Linked DNA regions of Homo sapiens: region 1 is linked to region 2. Evidence: fine-mapped expression QTL. A gene starts in region 2. The other region holds a variant in brackets. All regions are shown on one strand. Distances are between the middles of the regions.

Evidence for each region. PIP is the estimated chance that this variant, and not a neighbour inherited with it, causes the effect.
Region 1: its variant is fine-mapped to the expression of PRPF19 in whole blood (INTERVAL, PIP 0.99).

Annotation. Positions count from the first base shown.
Region 1 is chr11:60,860,127-60,870,341 of GRCh38, reverse strand. ZP1 (zona pellucida glycoprotein 1) reads right to left here and starts at 2,800. Exons shown (of 12, transcript NM_207341.4): 1 at 2,585-2,800; 2 at 1,076-1,197; 3 at 442-805; 4 at 1-10. The coding sequence starts at 2,780. RefSeq lists silencers at 5,848-6,065, 5,912-6,206. The variant C/T (reference allele first, on the strand shown) is at 7,123.
Region 2 is chr11:60,900,922-60,912,231 of GRCh38, reverse strand. It overlaps PRPF19 (pre-mRNA processing factor 19), which reads left to right and starts at 5,647. Exons shown (of 16, transcript NM_014502.5): 1 at 5,647-5,868; 2 at 8,371-8,520; 3 at 8,697-8,773; 4 at 9,351-9,492; 5 at 9,576-9,649; 6 at 9,767-9,829; 7 at 10,692-10,733; 8 at 10,863-10,937; 9 at 11,303-11,310. The coding sequence starts at 5,850. It overlaps PRPF19-DT (PRPF19 divergent transcript), which reads right to left and starts at 5,453. Exons shown (of 2, transcript NR_186697.1): 1 at 5,389-5,453; 2 at 1,332-2,805. RefSeq lists enhancers at 1,303-1,612, 2,323-2,372, 5,195-5,314, 5,428-6,015 and a silencer at 5,955-6,054.

The DNA.
Region 1 (10,215 bases), 41 kb after region 2:
AGGTGGGTACCTAGGGTTGGGACAGAGTGATGAGGCTGAAGGCACACAGTTTGCAAATCATGGCCCTGGAATTGAATCTTGGGAACCTGCTCCAGAGCTTGTGCTCTTAGCCAGCACAGTAAATGTCCTCCCTCAAAACTGAATATTACTGAAATTTCTAGAGAATATTTTCTGAGAATCAGGTGTTGCTGGCAATGGTTTCAATGAGTTTCTGCCTAAAGTTAGGAAACAAATTTACAAGACCTCTTCTAGCTTTAGTACACCTATACATGTTTAAAGCTGTTTTCCAAATACTACAAAGGAATAAAAGAATCATCTTTTTCTAAAAAAAGAAAAAAACAAAAAAAGAAATGGCTTAGAGCCCAGTAAAAGGCTGTTAGGCCACCCTGTACTCCAGAAGTCCCCAGACAGAGGGTAAGTACACTCAGATGTCCTGCGTACCTATGTAATCTCGTTTGTTCACATCCCAGTGTTCCAAGGTGCCCCAGTGGGGTTGAGCCAGGGTGGCGAGGGTAGGTCCAGGTCCAGGGGATGGTAAAGCAGGGGTTGGGTGGACAGAGCTGTGCCCTGGGTCCAGTGGGCTGGGAAAGGCATGGCCAGAGCCTTGGGAGGTATGGCCAGAGGTGGGGAGGAAGGAAAGGGTTTGTGGGGTTGAGACAGAGAACATGGCGGGTGGTGCCAGCTGGGAGTCCAGAGTCCGGGAGGGGTCAGGTTTGGGACAGATCAGAGTAGCGTCTTGTGCCACATCCACACGACCATTGGGCAGCACAGCCTCCATGAACACCCTCAGGTGGAAACGCCCATCCTGCAGGTGAGAGGCCATCATAGAGCAGCAAGGTGAGGCCACCTAGCATACCCAGGCAGGGGACGGGCCCACGAGAGCTGAGCTGGCCATTAGGCAGGGAGCTGGATTCATGGTGGATTCCAGAAAGTACCTTCCAGAGCTTAGTTTCCCTCACCCACCAGCTCAACAGATCTTCGGCTTTGGCTCCTTTCTGGTTCATGAGGGGCCTCTTCAGCCTGACATGACACTAGGACAAGCTTGCCCCTGTGCCAGAGCATGAACAACCCCTACCTTCTCCAGCACGTGGCAGCCTCTGTAATCGGCCGAGAAGACTGCAGGCTCCTGCGGCCTGGAGGTGACCCAGTGGTAGCAGATGGAGCAGTTGTTGACATCAAATCGGTTCCCAAATTCATCTGCAGTGGGGGAAGGGGAGGGGCCAGGGATGTTGAAGGGTGCAGGGAGAGGTTGCTGGGGTCTCGGAAGGAGTTCCCACTCAGCAGCCAGGAGACCTGGGTTCTTGCCTTAGCTTTGCTATTAGTTTGTTGTGTGGTCTTGGGCAAGCCCCCTCCCCTCTCTGCTCTCAGTTTCCACAGCTGTAAGGGGATGGGAGGGTCTTAGGATCTTTCTAGCTAGGGTTCCCTGCTCACAGCACACGGCAGCAGGCAGGCACGAAGATGAGGTGGAGAAGGGATACACAGGGTCTCAGGCACTGGCCTGAGTATTTCACATCACTTCTTTTAAGCTTAGTTATCCACATCCTGTGGCTGAGGCAGCTGAGGAAGGGAGGGTGCGTGAGCTTTCTTAGGTGCACACAATGAGGGGCAGAATGAGGATTTGAATCCTGGGCTTTGTAGAAAGATCTGAACCCATTTCCCAGGTTAACTGTGGCTGCTGCAGTTGCTTGGAGACACCCCCTAGGTGTCCACCCTGCTTGTTGCCCCAGAACAGCCTGGGCATTCCCTGGGTGTGGGCATGTCCCCATGCCCTTGTTCCATGAGCACGGCCAGGTTCATCTTCCCCACCTTGCAGATGAGGAAACAGAGGCTTATGAGTCAGGTCAGTTGTCCAAAATCATCCCGTTTAGAAGCTGCAGATCCAAACCCCAGTTCTAAACCCACACCAGGCCACGCCTACTAGGTCCTGCTGCTGGAAGTGGTTTATGGACCCTCAGCCTCAGTTTTGACTGAGCGTGGTTAGAGATGCAGAGCCTAGGCTGGGTGCAGTGGCTCACGCCTATAACCCCAGCACTTTGGGAGGCTGAGGCAGGTGGATCACCTGAGGTCAGGAGTTCGAGACCAGCCTGACCAATATCGTGAAACTCCATCTCTACTAAAAATACAAAAAGTAGCTGGGCGTGGTGGCACACACCTGTAGTCCCAGCTACTAAGAGGCTGAGGCAGGAGAATTGCTTGAACCTGGGTGGTGGAGGTTGCAGTGAGCTGAGATCGTGCCAACTGCACTCAAGCCTGGAGAACAGATTGAAAGAAGTGAGACTGTCTCAGAAAAAAAAAAAAAAAAGAAAAGAAATGCAGAGGCTTGGCCCTGCCCCAGGTCCACTGAATCAGAACCTGCACCTCAACAAGGTGGCCAGGTGTTTCCCATGCACACTAACGTGGGAGAAGCTGCCCTGGGTGATGATTCTCCTCCTTGCCCTTTTCTGTGGTGAGGGGGTGGGGGGCTGGACACCCCCAGGCTGGAGGGAGGCCTCTGTTCTTGCTCCTTCAGGGGAAGGGTCCCAGCTCCCTTCTGGCAGCAGCCCGTGGCCAGGGAGGCAGGGGCCAGGACTCTGCCAGCACTCACCCACCACCTTGAAGCGGAGAGTCTGGCCTGGCCTGGGGAACACCAGCAGCTGCATTCCCTTGATCCCACAGTCGTAGCTGTGCCGGAGGCCTGGGAGGCCAGGGTCGGGCTGGAGCCACCTACCCAGCCCCAGGGTGGCAACCAGCAGTAGCAGGGCCACAGGGTAACCCCAGGTCGTGGCTGAGCCTCCTGCCATGAGACGCCACAGACACACCCCCTACTCCCTCGCCACCAGAGCTGGGCCCAGGCCTTTTATGGAGGAGGTGGCAAGTGGGTGCCTGTAAGGGCAAAGGGGGCCCACCTGGAGGAGCACCCACCTGGCCACCAGGGGCTGTGGTGAAACTCCTGTTCCAAAGGCAGCGGGAGGCAGAAAGCTGCACGTGGCCCCTCACCCTGGCTTTCTGTCTCACAGCTGTGGCTTTGGAAGGGAGGAGGGAGCTTTCCAGAAAACTGAGGTTGCAGATGGGCTGTGGGAAGGGATCCAGGGCTAGGAGGTGGCACTGCAGACCTCAGGCCCTCCACTGTCTCCCTCTCACCCCAGCCTTTCTGCATTCCCTTCCTGCCCCAACAGGCTCTCCAGGTCCTCCTTCCTGCCTTGAGGCCTCAGGACCACTGGGAGCTGCCGGCCTGGTTAGTACAGTCACAGCTCCTCAGGCAGGGCTTTAGGGGCATTAGAGCAAGACCAGGAAGACACAGCCCTCAGAGCTGGCAGCGGAATGGGGACTGCAGGTGAGTAAACAGACCAGTAGCACCTCCAAGGGCTCTCCTGAGGATTCAGCCGGTCAGTATGATGATGACTATGACTAATAAAAAATAACAAGGACAACTAAATGTAATGTGGCATCTGGATGGGATCGTGGAACAGAAAAAGGCAGTAAAAGTGAAGAAAGTGGATTTTAGTTAATAATAATGTGTCCACATTTGTTTGTTCATTAATTGTAATAAATGTATCATACTCAAGTAAGATCAGTTATGGGGTAAACTGGGCCTGCGGTGTATGGGAACTGTCTGTACTATCTTCTCAGTTCTGTAAATCTAGAACAGTTCTAAGACATAAAAGTGGCTGGAAACAACAAGAATGGCCTGTGGTCTGCCATGATTACAGTGCCAGGTCTTGCTTGTGTTAGATCCTTATACCGCCTGACCATCCTCTGAGGAAGGGACTGTCACCAGCCCCACGTCCTGGCACTAATTCCTGCAAGTGATTAGCCTAGGGCCCAGCAGCGTTTGAGCTCAGCAAACATTAGAAAATGCAGCTATTATAATTAGCAGCTGCTGGAAGGGGAGAGCAAGAGGCTTGATAGCTAAGAGCCCGGTTCTGGTGAGGTTGCAGAGAAAAAGGAATGCTTATACGCTCTTGGTGGGGGTGTAAATTGGTTTGACCACTGTGGGAGTGTGGTGATTCCTCAAAGAGCTGAAAACAGAACTATCATTTGATGCAGAAATCGCATTACTGGGTATATATCCAAAGGAATATAAATTGTTCTATCATAAAGACACTGAACCTGCGTGCATATGTTCAGTGCAGCATGATTCACAATAGCCAAGACATGGAATCAAATGCCCATCAATGGTAGACTCAATAAAGAAAATCTGGTACATGCTGAGCACGGTGGCTCACGCCTGTAATCCCAGCACTTTGGGAGGCCGAGGCGGGCGGATCACGAGGTCAGGAGATCGAGACCATCCTGGCTAACATGGTGAAACCCTGTCTCTACTAAAAATACAAAAATTAGCTGGGTGTGGTGGCACGCACCTGTAGTCCCAGCTACTCAGGAGGCTGAGGCAGGAGAATCGCTTGAACCCAGGAGACGGAGGTTGCAGTGAGCCGAGATTGTGCTGTTGCACTCCAGCCTGGCCGACAGAGTGAGACTCTGTCTCAAAAAAAAAAAAAAAAAAAGAAAAAGAAAAAAAAAAAAGGAAAATGTGGTACACATACACCATGGAATACTATGCAGCCATAAAAAAGAATGAGATCACATCTCTTGCAAGAACATGGATGGAGCTGGAGGATATTATCCTTAGCAAACAAATGCAGGAACAGAAACCAATACCACATGTTCTCACTTATAACTGAAGGCTAAATGATGACAACATATGGACACATAGAGGGGAATGGCACACACTGGGGCCTATTGAAGGGTAGAGGGTAAGAGGAAGGAGAAGGGTGGAAATAATAACTATTGGGTGCTAGGCTTAGTATCTGGGTGATGAAATAATCTGTACAACAATCCCTCTGGACATGCATTTACCTATATAACAAACCTGCATAAGTAACCCTGAACCTAAAATAAAAGTTTAAACAAAAAAAGTTGGTTCTAATGGTGCCCCAACCACTTTCTTAGCTGTGACTCAGATGCATTATCTATTCTGAGCCTCAGGTTTCCTGTTTGTAAACTGGGGGTGATAATGCTTTCCTTGCCCACATGGTGGATAGGAAGACACAAAGAGACAAGTCATGGGTACCAGGTGCAGTAATGATTTAATGCTTGGCAATAATTCACTTCTACTGTGATTAAAGCTCAGCTGGGAAAGCTTGGTGGGGCGGGGTGGGAGTCCCTCTGGGGGCACAGTGGGAAGAGGCACCCAACACAGCATCGAGGATGGGCGACATGGAAGTGTTTTTGGAGGAAAGGGGTCCTGAGCAGAGGTGGGAGGAGGCGGGGAGGACAGGGATGGTGCAATGGGGATCTGGGGAGAGCAGAGCTGGAGGAGGAGGGAGGAAGCAGGTCACACAAAGGTCCAGGACAAGGACTCCAGGCAGGCTGAGGGTGCTGGCGAGGGAAGGACTAGGAGGGGAAGGAGAGGAGCCAGGCAGGAGCGGGGAGTGGGGTGGATTTTCCCTGAGGGACGATGTGGAAGTTTTAAACTTTTAATTTTGAAATTATTTCAGATTTGCAGAATTTCCATATAGCCTCCTCCAGATTCCTCAGATGTTCACTGTTCACTTTTTACATTTGCTGTAGCTCCCGCTTTCTCTCTCTGCATGTGTGCAGACATACACGCACGCACACGCACACACGCACACATTCTTCCATATCATTCAAGAGTCAGTTGCAGAAATGACAGATTCCCCTTTACCTCTAATTGCTTCAGTATACATTTCCTAAAAAAACAAATCACCCCTACAGTCAAATGATCAAAATCAGGAAACCAACAATGGTATAAACACAACGATCTAATCTGCAGACATTATTGTAAGAAATAAAGAGGAAAGCAACATGAAAGGGCGGTTCAACAGGCAACAGGGACAGGTTTATGTTGAGTAAACCTGAGAGGGGCGGCTGGCCGAGTTAGGTCAGAGCCCCACTCTCTTACAGATTAAGAGTTAAGGATTCAGGGCGGGGGAGTTTATCAGAGGCTTGGACTGCTCCTGTGTCTCTTTGCTGTGCGTATCTGGGAGGGAGAGTTGTGTGTCTGTTCCCATATATCTTTCTGCAGCTACAGGCATATCCCCAGAGTCTGCTTTTAGCTTCCCTATCTTAGTGCCCCTGAAGGAAAAGGAATGTGCTTATTAAGGCCCACTGTTTTACTGGGGCTCATTGTGTGAGGGTGAAGTTTGGCAGTTACCAAAGAGACCTTCCCTCCACCCCGCTCTGTGCCGGAGCTGTCTTATCTGTATTTTACTGTCTGCTCTTTCTGGCTGTTGTAGTTAGAAGAGAAGTGATTTCCTTGAAATGCATGAGGCTAGAAAGGGAGCTGGAGCTTAAAGTGGCAGTATTTGTCCGAGATGACGGTGCTCCTGCTCTGACAATTACTCAACATCTGCCGACTGTCCTAACTGTGACTTTCATGGCAAAGGAGTACAGTGGTTTTGGGAGTCTGCAGGATCCAATCCAGGCTCAGAGTCTCGCTGGCGTGCCTCTTGGCCTCCTCTGATCTGGGACCGCCCTTCTATCTTCTTTTGTCTTTCATACCCTTGACATTTTTTAGTACAGCCGGATGATTTTGCAGAATGGCCCTCAGTTTGGGTTTGTCTGGTGTTTTCTCCTGGTTACATTAGATTTAGTTGATGCATCTTGGCCTTGTATTAGTCCGTTTGGCTGCTGTAACAAAATACAGACTGAGTGGCTTAAATAAGTCTTTTTCTCACAGCTCTGGAGCCTGGATGTGCTAGGTCAAAGTGGTGGCAGGTCTGGTTGCTCCTGAGGCCTCTCTCTTTGGCCTGCAGACAACCGTCTTCTCACTGAGTCCTCACGTGGTCTTTCCCCTGTGCTGGTGCGTCCTTGGTGTCTCTTTGAATGGTCAAATTCCCTCTTCTTCTGGCTGGCACGGTGGCTCACGCCTGTAATCCTAGCACTTTGGGAGGCCGAGGTGGGCAGATCACTTGAGGTCAGGAGTTTGAGACCAGCCTGGCCAACATGGTGAAACCCCATCTCTACTAAAAATACAAACTAATTAGTTGGGTGTGGTGGTGCACACCTGCAATCCCAGCTCCTCAGGAGGCTGAGGTGGGAGAATCACTTGAACCTGGGAGGTGGAGGTTGCAGGGAGCCAAGACGGCACCACTGCACTCCAGTCTGGAAGACAGAGTGAAA[C/T]TCCATCCCAAAAAACAAAAACAAATTTCCTCTTCTTCTAAGGACACCAGTCAGATTGGATTAGGGCCACCTTAAGGGGCTCAATCTTAAATCACATCTTTAAAAGCTCTATCTCCAAATACAGTCACATTCTGAGGGATGGGGGTGGAGGGTTAGGGATTTCGCATATGAATTTTGGGGGGATACAATTCAGCTTGTACAGAAGTGATGTTGTGTCCTTCTCAGTATCTCGAGGCACACCCCGCTGGCTTGTCCTGTTATTGCTGATGTGACTTTGATCACTTGGATAAGGTGGTGTCTGCCAGGTTTCTCCACCATAAAGTAATGATGTTTCTCTTTGTAATTCATGAGTATCTTACAGGGAGATACTTTGAGACTATGTAATCAATCCTGCTCCTCTTCAAATGTTCACTGGCTAGTGTGGTTGCCAAGTGGGTGGTGGTTCTCTAACTCTACCCTTCCTTCTGCATTTATTTGCTATCATAAGAGAGAACTTTTCCTAACGGGGGCTTTTAGGGGCCAGAGAGAGAATCAGCTGGAGTCTTTGAGAGGCCTGGATTTTGCCTGGTGCTCACTGTTTATGAGCACAAGGGCCCTGGGAAGTCACTTACCGGCTTTTTTCCTCTATCTGGAGAGTAAGGATGAGAATGATTATGGTGGGGATGCAATTACATAAGACACGGAGAGGTGTTTCCCCACTGGTCATGGACCCATGGGGAAAGTACGTCTCCCAAGGTGCTGGAAATGGGCAGGGAAAGAGAAGGGGGGCTTCCTCAGGGCCAAGGGCAGAACACCTTTGGGAAAAGGGTACCAGAGTATCCAAGAGAGAGAGAGAGCGCGCACGAGCGCCCTGAGCCCTCGGTTACGACTCTACGTTCTTGCAAAGACTCATGGACACCAAGAATTATCAGCCTGGGAGGATCCCAGCTCCTCTGCTCACCCACTGGAGACCTTGGAAAAGTCCCTTCCCTGCTCTGTGACTTGCTTTCCTCATCTATAAAATGGGGTTATAATAGCACCTAAATTGTAGGGTTGCTCTGAGGATTAAATGAGATAATCCATGTGAAGCAGGCAGAACAGGGTCTGCACATGGTCATCATTTGAACACGATAGCCATTACAACCACGATTATTTTTATTGATAAAGAGAGAGGGTCAGATGGAGGTGACTTGACTTGGAATCTTGGCTTTATCCACTTGGCTTCTGGTTTTTGGGTTTTTTTTTAGAGATGGGGTCTTGCTATATTGCCCAGGCTGGTCTCAAACTCCTGGGCTCAAGCAATCTGCCCGCCTCTGTCTCCCAAAGTGCTGGGATTACAGGCATGAGCCTCCACACCTGGCCACTTGGCCTGTTTGTAAACCTGTTTGTTCATTTCTTTCTTTCTGTTTTTAACCTATGAATTTTTTTTTAATGGAACTTCAGTTTCTTTTCTTTCTTTTTTTTTTTTTGTTTTGTTTTGAGACAGAGTCTCACTCTGTCGCCCAGGCTGGAGTGCAGTGGCGCGATCTCGGCTCACTGCAAGCTCCGCCTCCCGGTTCACACCATTCTCCAGCCTTAGCCTCCCGAGTAGCTGGGACTGCAGGCGCTGGCCACCATGCCCGGCTAATTTTTTATATTTTTAGTAGAGACGGGGTTTCACCGTGTTAGCCAGGATGGTCTCGATCTCCTGACCTTGCGATCCGCCCGCCTCAGCCTCCCAAAGTGCTGGGATTACAGGCGTGAGCCACCGCACCCAGTTGGAACTTGAGTTTCTTAATCTATAAAATGGAACTAAGAATACAGTCCACCTAAGTGGGGCGCCGTGTAAGTATCAGTTGCTTGCCCTGTCTCCTCTGTGAATAGAGCCTAGGGAAGGCACTGGAGGAGGATGGAGCCTCTCTAGGCTGGAAAGACAAAATCCCCTTTCAGGGGATCCATGCATGCCAGGAAACCAGCAGGAAGCAGGCTGCCTCACTCCGGGGCCTGCAGAGTAACCCAAGAGCAGCGCCAGCTGTGTGTGTATGTATGGACCGTGCTCACCGCAGAGATGCTCCCAGAAGGCCAGTGGGAGCGCATTTAACTGAAGACAGGCAGCCCTGCTTCCCCTGAGGGAACAAAGAACCTCAGAGAATCTCATCAGCTGCGAAGAGCTGGGCTCTGCTGCTGGACCACATGGCTCTGAACTCCAGCTCCTCTGCTCCCCAGCTGAGCAGGCTTGGTAGGGTTGCTTAAGCTCTCTGAGCCTCAGTTTTCCCCTTGGTGAGTGACGATGATAGTGGTACCTAACTCAGAGGGGTGCGTGAATATTTGATGAGCTCATCCATGAGCAAGTTTCAGCCTTACGCTGGCACATAGTGAGTGCCCCATAAGTGTTAGCTATTACTGTTTTCATTTTTTTTTTTTTTTTTTTTTTGAGATGGCGTCTCGCTCTGTCACCCAGGCTGGAGTGGAGTGGCAGGATCTCGGCTCACCATAACCTCTGCCTCCTGGGTTCAAGCGATTCTCCTGCCTCAGCCTCCTGAATAGCTGGTATTACAGGCGTGCACCATCACACCTGGCTAATTTTTGTATTTTTAGTAGAGATGGGGTTTTGCCTGTTGGCCAGGCTGGTCTCGAACTCCTGACCTCAAGTGATCTGTCCGCCTCATCCTCCCGAAGTGCTGGGATTGCAGGCATGAGCCACCGTACCCAGAAGCTATTATTGCTTTCACTGTGTTGAATGGTGGCCCTCAAAAGACATGTCCACAACCTAACCCCTGGAACCTGTGAATGTGGCCTTATTTGGATAAGAGGACTTTGCAGATGTAATCAATTTAAGAATCTCAAGATGAGAGCACCCTGGATGATCCAGATGAGCCCTAAGTCCAGTGACCAGTACTCTGTGAGAGACACATGAAAAGAGGGAGGGGGAAGGCCAGGTAAAGAGGAGGTAGAGATTGCAGTGATGCAGCCCTAAGCCAAGGGACGCCTGGAGCCACCAGAAGCTGGAGGGGCCAAAAAGTCTCCTTTTCTAGAGCTTTCGGAGGAAGTGCTGGCATCTGATTACAGACTCTGGCTTCCAGACTGTAAGAGAATAAGTCTCTGTTGTTTAAAGCTGCCACGTTTGTGGTAGTT
Region 2 (11,310 bases):
TTCCATCAGATGTTCCTCAGACACATCCATCTTCATCTGAGCTCTTGTCACTTCCTGCCCCTCAGCTAAGAGTCCTTCTTCCAGGACAGGCTCTGGTAGCATCCTAAACCTCACCTTCCAGCTTTTCTAACAGTTTCAATTTTACATTTGCTTGTGCGATCCTTTCTGATGTCTAAGATTAACAATCTCAGGTCACAGACTTTCCTGGGAAAGAAATTTAACCTTTTTTTTTTTCTATGACAAATTAATTTCTTTTCAACTCTCTTTTCCATGTGGGTAGTAGAAACAGTCTCAGACAGTTCAGGGTTCTTCCCATCCTTGATTTTCAGGTCGTAGACACCTTTTGGAAAATGAATATAGGGCCAAAGTTGGGGGAGAAAATGTATCTAATCCTGGCCGGGGGCAATGGCTCACACCTGTAATCCCAGCACTTTGGGAGACTGAGGCAGAGGGATCACTTGAGGTGAAAGAGTTCAAGTCCAGCCTAGCCAAAATGATGAAACCCTGTCTCTCTAAAAATACCAAACAAAACTAGCCAGGTGTGGTGGTGTGTGCTGTAATCCCTACTCAGGAGGCTGAGGCAGGAGAATCACTTAAATCCAGAAGGCAGAGGTTGCAGTGAGCCAAGATCACGCCACTGCTCTCCAGCTGGGTGACAGTGAGTGAGACTCCATGTAAAAAAAAAGAAAAAAAGAAAATTCATCTAATTATCAGTGTCAGTTGTTTAAGCTGGCAACTTCTCCCTGACTAATCTTCTGTCACTTATCCACACAGATTGCTACTGAAGATACCTGGGAAATTAAGCTTCTTTTGGGTCTTTGGCCAATGTGTCCCCATGCTCCCCAGGCAGCAACAGCAGCTTTGGTCTGGGAGGAACAAGGCATAGAGTTCCTTCCTCAGGGACCCACCAGCACCAATGCATATATCTCTTTTCCCTTAACTCTCCCTGTTTCTCTGAAACCAAGTGCCCTGAATTTTTTCTATTCCCTGTGGGCTGGCTTATGAAACGGAAAAGCCTTGACAGGACTTCCTTTTTCCTGCATCCTGCTATCATAGCCATAAACTCCCCAGTAGAGGGACACCTCTGGTTTTGCTCATTGTGATACTACCAACACCTAGTATCGTGCCGGGCTGACACGCTATGGGTACTCAATAAAGATTGGTTCAACAATTAATTACTGAGTCTCCCTCCTTCTAGTCTGTCCCACTCCAACCCATCCAGTAAGTGTCTTCCAGAGGAAACTTCTGAAAGTATGGTTATCACTCCATAGCTCAAATGCAAACACATGCTGTTGTGCTGCCAGCCCAATCACCACCCAAGTTTTACCACCTTGGGTTCAAGGCCTCTCCTAAACGGATCCATTTTATTTCCAACCACACATCCAAGTACAGTAGTTGAGATGACTGGCCTGTCAGGCAACCTGTCTTCCAACCAACAATCATCATAAAGTTCCTGCTATGTGCCAGGCACAATGTGGCACTCTTACACTCTTGAGAGCAAGAGTAACCAGAACAATTATGGTTCCTGCCATCATGAAGTTTACAGTCTAGTGAAGAACCCAGACATCAGATACTTATAAATAGATAATTAAATGATTACAGTTCTTTGAAGTGGTTTGGAGGACAATCACAGTTTGCTGTATGGACTAAATTTAAACCAGGGACCATGAAAAGGGCTCCAGAGGAAGTGACATTTAAGGTGAGACTGAAGTTTACATTGGAGGGTTTGAGACAGGAGGGGGAAGAGGGAGGGGGGAGAGGACAGTGATCCAGGCAGAAGTTCTGAAACCAGCCAGCGCGGGTATGTTTGAGGAACTGAAAGGCCAATGTGGCTGGAAAGAAGATAAAGTGAGACTGTGATGGTCAGCATGGGCCAGATGGTGCAAGACTTACGGGCAAGTTTCCTCAGCCAGAAACTCTCTCCCTCATTCATGGCCTCAGGAATGACCCCTGGTTGGGGCTCAGAGAATGATACCCCAAAGTATGGTGCTTTAGTATTGTTTCTGAGCAAATAGGCTCACTGCCTGATGCACATAGAAGCCAATACTATGGTACCAGCTTTTGAGAACAGAAAGGCTTTATTGCAGGGCCACCCAGCAAGGAGACTGGAGGCATGGCTCACATCTGTCTCCTAATTTGGGGTCTGGGGCAAGATTTAAGGGGTCAGAGGGTGATATGGTTTGGCTGTGTCCCCACCCAAATCTCATCTTGAATTCTCACATGTTGTGGGAGGGACCCAGTGGGAGATAATTGAATCATAGGGGCAGGTCTTTCTTGTGCTGTTCTTGTGATAGTGAATAAGTCTCATGAGGTCTGATGGTTTTGAGAAACAGGAGTTTCCCTGTACAAGCTCTTTGTTTTTGCCTGCTGCCATCCATGTAAGATGTGACTTGCTCCTCCTTGCCTTCTGCCATGATTGTGAGGTTTCCCCAGCCACGTGGAACTGTAAGTCCAATTAAACCTCTTTTGTAAATTGTCCAGTCTCAGGTATGTCTTTGTCAGCAGCGTGAAAACAGACTAATACAGATGGCAAGGAAACGTATTAGGAATTTTGGCTTGGCAGGGTCTGATTGGAGGGTGTCAAATTTGACTACACGGGTATGTTGAGGTGGATTTTACCCCTGGATCTTTCTGGTCAACAGACCCTTTGCTCCTGAAAGAGTTCCAGCATTTAGGTTCCGATCATGTCTAGGTCTTCTTGGTACCACAGGGAGGAATCATTGGTTCTGGGTGTTGTTAGATGTCAAAGCATTTTCTATTGGGCATGCCCTACTGACATGACTTGGAGTTTTGGCTCTGTCATACCTACAAGAGAACATGACATTCTGTTATCAAAAGAGTAGGCCCAGTTTGGATTGGTCCTGAGGTTACAGCATGCTGAGCACTTTTGAATGAAAAGAAATGGGAAGGTCTTAGAAGCTGCCTTAGAACCAAGGACTTTCTAACCTTCTCTTGCCCCCTGACCCCCACCCTAAGTACAGGGAGAAGCTCTCTCTAGAAGTTCCCTTATCTGACTGAGAAAATTTCTTTCAGAAGAAATGCAATTGTCTCAAATCTCCCTCCACAGGAAACTCATCAAATAACCAGGAAAGATTAACCACTGGAGAAGAATAAAAACTAAAAGTCACCAACTCACCACTACACCTAGAGAGACTTTTAATCTATTCTTCTGATGGGAGCTCTAACAGATTACCTGAGAGACCTTATGTGCATAATAAGACAACCTTTGTTCACAATGGAGTTCTGCCCCTCACCTTCCCACAATTTGTTGCCACCTCCTCCAGAGCTCATAAGAACTTTGTCCCAAGGCATTGTTTGTTCTTGGGGCTCATTCATTTCCCCTAAAAATTATTTGCTAGCCCTCCCTAAAAATTATTTGCTAGCCCTCAAAATTGCCTACATTTCCCCCATCTCCGTCTTTCCTGGGTGCCATTTAAGTAAGCATCAGCCACCTGTTCCTTCTTTGAGCCTCATATTTTGTATTACTCCTGTGCACACTCACACACTAATACACTTGTATGCCTTTTCTCCTGTTATTCTGTCGATTGTCAGTTAATTTCAGCAAATCTTTAGAGGGCAGAGGGGAAACTTTTTTGCTCCATACCCTCATTCAGTTCTCAGCAAAAAAATCAGCTCCTCAGTGATGCACTCTCTAAGTGCCCTGCCTCAAGTAGCCGTTCCTCCAATCCCCAGCACCTCTGTCTACCTTGCTCTGATTTGTTGTATTCATAGCACTTACTACTCTGGAATTTTCTTCTTAAGTGTTGATTGTCTCTGTGCTCCCACCACCCACAGTAGAGTGTAAGCTCCAAGACAGCAGAAACTGTGTCTTTCTTGTTGACCTTTTCTATCTCCAGTTTTTACAATAGGGCTTGGCACATAGGAAGCACCCAATCAATATTTGTTGGATGAATGAAATGCCTGGGGAATAACATGAATAGATATTTCGTTCAAAGTGGATCACTGTCTGCTCTGTGGAAAGTAGATTAGGAGGAGGAGGCCAGGCTGGAAGCAAGGAACAAGTGGGAAGTTACTTTGTTGGTGCAAGACAGAGATGAGATGCCCTTTTGCATATTAACTCTTCATAAGAGTTCAGTGAGTTAGTTCTACCCTTGTCATCACTCCCTCTGTTTTACAGATGAGGAAACTAAGGCATAGAGAAGTTCATACTGCCAATCACCTGAGTGGTGCTAGGATTTGAGCACACAGTCTGACTTCAGAGTCCATGCTCTTGGCCACTATGCCATATTGCCTTTTGTACCTGTAACTTTTATTTTTCTCTCCAAGCTTTTGCTTACGTTGTTTCTTCTTCCGGAATGCCTTTCGTTCTCCTTCTCCTCTGAATACTGCCCACCTGTCAAAGTCCCTCTCACTCACATCCTGTTCATCCTGCCCTTTTGTCTTGATACCTTACAGTCCACACCACGTCTTTTGCATGATTCCTGAGAGTATCTTATCTTACAGATATCCACAAAGAATCATACACTATCTGAGCTGGAAGAGAAATAGAAAATACAAAATCCAAAATACAAAATAAAGAAATTTATAGGAGGCCATTGGTTTGGACTGAGCTCTTCTGCTAGGCCTAACAGACCAAGCTAAAAAGAGTTAGTCCTGCTGAAGCTCCACGCCAATAAGCTGAAACGAAGATCTTTACGACCTTCTGAGTGTGTATGTGTGTGTGTGTGTGTGTGTGTGTGTGTGTGTGTGTAGGGGGGAGCTAAATTCCCAAACAGGCAAGTTTTAGGTGGCATGATAAGTCCCCTCCACTTTAACCTTTACAAGAAAAGTAATTTTGAAATTACCAAATGACCAATCCGCTTTTTGTTCTCTGTTCCTGTTTTCCTCAGTCCTTTTCTGTCTATAAAACCAAGTTCTCCTGTTCAGCTCATTGGAACAACCATTATATTTTATAGTATGAGGCACTGCCCAATTCTATAGAATCGCACCTTAAGTCCCAGCTACTCCGGAGGCTGAGGCAGAAGGATCACTTGAGGCCAGGAGTTCCAGGATGCACCTGTGATAGCCATGATTGCTATGACCGCACCTGTGAATAGCCACTGCCTTCCAGCCTGGGCAACATTGCCAGAGTCCGTCTCTTAAGAAAAAAAAAATCTTTGAACTAAGTTTGTTGTGATTTTGTCTTTTGACAAAGAAGAAAGGGCAATGTGAATTGCCCCAAATCACAGAGCGAAATGGTAGTAGTCAGGACCAAAACACTTTCTTAGCCGTTTTCTTAGTTCTTGTACCCATCTGTTTCTGTATTTTCTTCACCAGGCCATCCAGCAGTGTCTCTTAAAGGGTAGCCCGAGAAACAACTGACTTAGAAAAGCGTGGGGCACAGTCTGTCTACGCAGACCCGAGGAATCTGCATTTTAACAAACTCACTGGGAAATTCTCGCGCACGCCAAGGTTTCAAAGACCAGGGTCCCGTGGCACAGTGCCGCACAGTTGTCAAAACAAGTGCTGTCCAATTGTTTTGGTTTTAAATTCTCACTGCGTCATGGGAAATGTAGTTTCGAGCCTCCTCTCTCCCGACGCCCCAGCCAATCCTCCGGCGCTTTACGGAACGAGCCGAGTCAATCCGGAAATAACCGAGTGTTCGTGGCGGGCCCTTTCCTGCCCGGCTGCATTCTGGGAAAGGGCAATTTCCGTTAGGTGCTGAAGGCTGTGGCGCGCGGCTGTCCCCATTCCCACGTGAAGCGCTACGCTAGCATCGCTCGGCTGGCGGCTCCCAGCTCGCCGCGGAGCAGTCCCGGCAGCAGCGGGGGACCGGAAGTGGCTCGCGGAGGCTCAGAAGCTAGTCCCGGAGCCCGGCGTGTGGCGCCTCGGAGCACGGTGACGGCGCCATGTCCCTAATCTGCTCCAGTGAGTGTTGGCTGCGGCCAAGCGCGGGTCTCAGGAGGCCAGAGAGCGGCGCGGGAGCGTGTGCGGTCCGCTGCGGCGCCCGGGCCGGGGTGGAGGCGGGAATGGGGCGCTCCGGAGGCCGAGCGGCGGCCTGTCAGCACCGGAGCCCCCCCCGTCGGAGCGGGGTGCATTTGCGCAGTGCCCCGCAGTTTACATAGTGCCTGAGGTTTATTGTCGCAGACATTACTGAGGCCGGTCGCCTCATTCTACAGAGTGGAAACAGGTCTGGACAGAGAGAGCTGGTGCAAGGGAAGCAGCCTTAATGTAGGAGTCAGAAAACTCGAGGTCTTGTCCAGGGTCCGCCTCCCATTGGCTTTATGAATTGGCTCAAGGCTCTGGGCCTCGGTTTCCCCATCTGCAAAATCGAGAGCATTGCAGTGGATGTTTTGCGAGGCCTCGCTCGGATAGTCGGAGCTTTTGCAATTTGCAAAGGTCACATGATGAGTTAGAGGTAGAGGCAAGGCTGGCAGCCAGGTATCTGGCTCCCAGCCTTACACTGTATGACTAATAAAAACAGCGCACATTTATAAGCCCTTATTGGTTTACAACGCGCTTCCAAGTCTATGATCTCATTTTATCCTCACAAGAATTCCCTAAAGGAGAAATAAAGATCCTGGTTTTGCAGATGAGGATGCAAGGCGCAGGAAGAGCGGGGCTTATCTAAGGATGCGTAGCTAGTCAGTGGCAGAGCTGGGTGACGTAGTTAGGTGACACGGATCTTGGACCCTGAATCCATGCTTTTTTCATACCTTCCACTATCTTTCCCTTTGATATTTTATCATGACGTACAGACATTTTCCTTTCCCTTTTCGTTGTTTCATCAGATTACTCGTTTCCCCTCCCTTTTGCTATTCACTTCCTTCTCTTCTCAGAACCTGTACATTGATCCAAAGAGGGGGAAGAAGGAAGGGAAATGATGGAAAAGGAATCCCTCACTTTGAAGAAATTACAGCTCGCAAAGTACCTTCACATTTATTGTTTCCTTCCAATCTTCGGGAAGCTCTCTTTTACGTTCCCCAGCACCATCCTTCCTGGCATGGTTCACTCATTTGTTAGATGTTTACCGAGTGCCCTGGGGGCATCTGCATTGTACTGGAAGTGAGAGACCAGCTGTAATCCTTATCCTCAAGGGGTGCACAGTCTACGCAGGCAAGAGTGTAAATGATACCTCTATTGCGGGTTGTTGTGAAGATGAATTACTGTACTGTATGCCTAGAATTGTGCTTGGCACATAGAAATGTGCCATGCAAATGTGCCATGTAAATATTTTTAAATATTTTTATTGTAGCGATTGCCACTTTGCTCCTTGGAATCTTCCAGGTGATAAGTGTCTGTACGCTAATCAGTTGACTGGTAGCTGGTAGACTCAATAGCTTCAGGATGGGGACTGGTCACCTAGGAAGACTAAAGGGTATTAGAAGGTTGGGATTTTCAGTCCTACCCCCCATTTACCTGGGGAAATGAGAGGAACTGAAGTCGTCACTAGTGACCAGTGATTTATTGAATCATGCCTTTGTAATGAAGTTTTCATAAAAATACAAAAGGACAGGATTCAAAGAGCTTCTGTATAGCAGAACATGTGGGGGTTCCTGGAGGGTGGGGTGCCCAGGGAAGGCATGGGAAGCTCTGTACTTCTCCCATACCTCATCCTATGCTCCTCTTCATCTGTATCCTTTGTAATATCCTTTACAATAAACTGGTAAACATAAGTGTTTCCCACAATTGTTTGAGTCACTGTTGCAAATTAATTGAACCCAAAAAGGAGGTCATGGGAACCCTGATTTACAGCTGGTAGATCAGAAGAACAGGTCAAACAACCTGGGGCTTGCGATTGGCATCTGAAGGGGCGGGGAGTCTGGTGGGACTGAGACCTCAACCTGTATGATCTGACACTATCTCCAGGTACCTGGTGTCAGAATTGAATTGGAGGACACCCAGATGGTCACATCTGAGGTCACAGAAGTATTTTGTTTTGTCAGAGAATAGGAGAAACTGAGTTTGTTATTCCTGTATTCTCAGACTTTATAATTTCTTTGATAATCTGTCTGGAGCTATAGACTAAGATGGATGGCAGGGATTTGAATGGCTTCATGTGTATCTCCATGTCATGGAGTAAACTGTATTCATAGAGTACACAATCATTGTTCAGATATGAGGTGGTGATAATGGACTGCTATTCTCTAGGTGCTTGGCACATAGTAGTTGTTAATAATTATTTGTTGACTATATGATTGTCAGATAGTCAGGAGACTATCTCCTCAGTCAGGAGACTAAAGGAAAAGGTAGTTCCATAGCTGGAAAGCATTCTGGGGCCAGTACAGAACTGGCTTAGGGTCAAATGTCTTGCTTTCTGCTAGTTGAGTGTGAGGATGCCTAGTCTTGTTGGGGCTAATAGCAGATGAGGAATCCTCTAGGCCCAAGATTGCCTTCACTCCAAGCTCACTACCAGCCTTTTCTCTACAGTCTCTAACGAAGTGCCGGAGCACCCATGTGTATCCCCTGTCTCTAATCATGTTTATGAGCGGCGGCTCATCGAGAAGTACATTGCGGAGAATGGTACCGACCCCATCAACAACCAGCCTCTCTCCGAGGAGCAGCTCATCGACATCAAAGGTGCCTATTGGCTGCCTTAGTCTAGGGCCATCTTAGCTCAGAGCCTGAGAGGATGGGAGGTGGTGCCAGTGCACTGGAGGAAGAGATGGTGGGCTGTTTATGGCTAAAAGGAAAAGATGTGATGGCGGGGGAGGCCCCTGGGTTATGTTCTTCATACCTGCTTTCCCTTTCGGCAGTTGCTCACCCAATCCGGCCCAAGCCTCCCTCAGCCACCAGCATCCCGGCCATTCTGAAAGCTTTGCAGGATGAGTGGGTGAGTTCCTGCAAGAGAATCAGCATCTTCCCCACTTGAAGAGAATGCATTGCTGGGTTAGGACTTGGGGGTAGGAAGGATGGAGCATTATTTAGAGGGTAAACTTTGTGACATCAGGGATTTGTTTTATTCTTCGTTGTATCCCCAGCACTGAGAGCAGCACCTGGTACATAGTAGGTGCTCTAGAGTTATGAATTGAATGATTGAATACATCCTGCAGGACTGTCTGGCACAGTGCCTGACACAACGAGGGCGATCAATAAATAGCAGCAGCAGCAGTGTTGTTATTCTCTTTTAGAGAGGGGACGGCATGACAGCTGGGATTTGCCAGTAAGTTAGGGAAGGTGGGGATGGGAAAGAGCTGGCTCCCACTCCTGTCTGTGTGCCCAGTGGTTCGCTTGGGGTAGGAGCTCAAGAGTGTCTGCCGGCACATTCGTGTTTGCTCGGATATTGTTTGGGTCACTGATACTGGTCTAGGCTCTGGGATAGGAGGCAGCATCCCCTCCCCAAGGGCTGACTCCACTGGGTACTCCCTGCACCCCCCACCTCACCTTACAATGATATTTGCTTCTCCCAGGATGCAGTCATGCTGCACAGCTTCACTCTGCGCCAGCAGCTGCAGACAACCCGCCAAGAGCTGTCACACGCTCTGTACCAGCACGATGCCGCCTGCCGTGTCATTGCCCGTCTCACCAAGGAAGTCACTGCTGCCCGAGAAGGTGCAGCCTCTCCCCTGCCATCCCCCACCCTGGGCTGGTTCTGCATTGTAATATCCCATTTCTAACATCGTCTTTTCTCTCAGCTCTGGCTACCCTGAAACCACAGGCTGGCCTCATTGTGCCCCAGGCTGTGCCAAGTTCCCAACCAAGTGTTGTGGTAAGTGTCCCCCTTCCCTTACCAGCAGCCCATTTGTGTACAGTGGCCCACAGAACTGTCCTTATGCAGGTGTCTTTGGTGCTCTGTGCCTCTCACCCTCACCTTTCTTCTCTTCAGGGTGCGGGTGAGCCAATGGATTTGGGTGAGCTGGTGGGAATGACCCCAGAGATTATTCAGAAGGTAAGTCCTGCTCTCACCTGGTGGGAGTGCTGATGGGCCCTTACTTTTCACCATCTGTCTGGAGTCCATCGTGACTAAAATCACTGTGCTTTTGGGAGTTGAGTGGTGCAGAGCATGGACCCTGGGACCAGATTGCCTGGGTTTGTATTTTGATGCCACTACTTGTAAGCTTTATGACCTTGGCTTACTTAGCCAACCCTTACGTGTCTCATTTCCCTAGCTTCTAAACTGAGAATATGATCATATCCACTGTATAGGCAGGCTGTGGGAATTTAAAAGATTTCATTACTGATAAGTGCACCTTTTAGCTCTTATTGTTATTGAGATTCTTTGCAGATAGTAAACTACTTTTATATATTTTCTTGTTTTTTTTCTATGAGGGCAATAGGATAGGAATTATAATCCTTATTTTGCAGATGAAAGACACATCTGAGAGGCAGAGCTGGGCTTCCTGATTGCAAGTCCAGTGGGATTCTCATTTGCAGGGCTTCTTAGTGTCTTTCTGAGCAGTTCAAATTGTCAGCATGTGTCTGAGCCCTTGGCTTAGTGGCGTGTAGACCTATGGGAGCTCTACAGTCCTAGCTTCTATTCTTGCTCTGCTGTTTATCACCTCTGCGACCTTGGGCAATTGACTTCACTTCTCTGAGGCTCAGTTTCCTCAGCTGTAAAATAAGGTCATCAACACCCCCCTCATAAAGCTGGGATGGAAGTAAGAAGAGAGAATGCCTTTAAGCCTGTAACGTAGAAGTTGGCAGATAGCAAGTTCTTGGTGCTGCTTTTGAAAGCACAGGTGTGACCAGCATCTAATGTACTTTTCTCCTTGCAAGATGATTTGTCTCACATTGAGCCTGTTCTTCCCCAGCTTCAAGACAAAGCCACTGTGCTAACCACGGAGCGCAAGAAGGTGAGTTCTCTTTCTGAAGCCTGGAGAAAGAGCTGGCCTGGTGGGAGGCGGTTGACTCCTTAGGAGAGAGAGGGCGGCTGAATCTTGGATTCATTGCTGCTCTTCTTTGGGGGCTTTTCATTTTCTCAGAGAGGGAAGACTGTGCCTGAGGAGCTGGTGAAGCCAGAAGAGCTCAGCAAATACCGGCAGGTGGCATCCCACGTGGTGAGTGTCTGGGTCTCCACTGTCTTGGAGACAGCCCTCCCGTTTTGTTTCTGGGGTGGGCGGGCCAGCATGGGGAGTGCTGAGTGCAGAGCTGTCCCAGGTTCCTGGCGCTGTTCCTGGTGCTGTTTCTCGCCTGGGCTGCTGAGTTGTCAGGGCTCCTCTTTCTGCCCAGCTGTGGGTTTCCTAGTGATGCAGTGAGGGAGTTACCGTACCAGGCAGATAGCCAAGAGGTATGGATAAGGAATAGAAGTAACTCTTGCTCCCCTGAGAACATGGGTGACTGGAGATGGCAGTAGGGGAGGTCTGTGGCTTTGTGGCCTGCTGTGATTTGGCCGTGACAGGGTTTGGTGTGTCTCTCTGCAAAGGGGTTGCA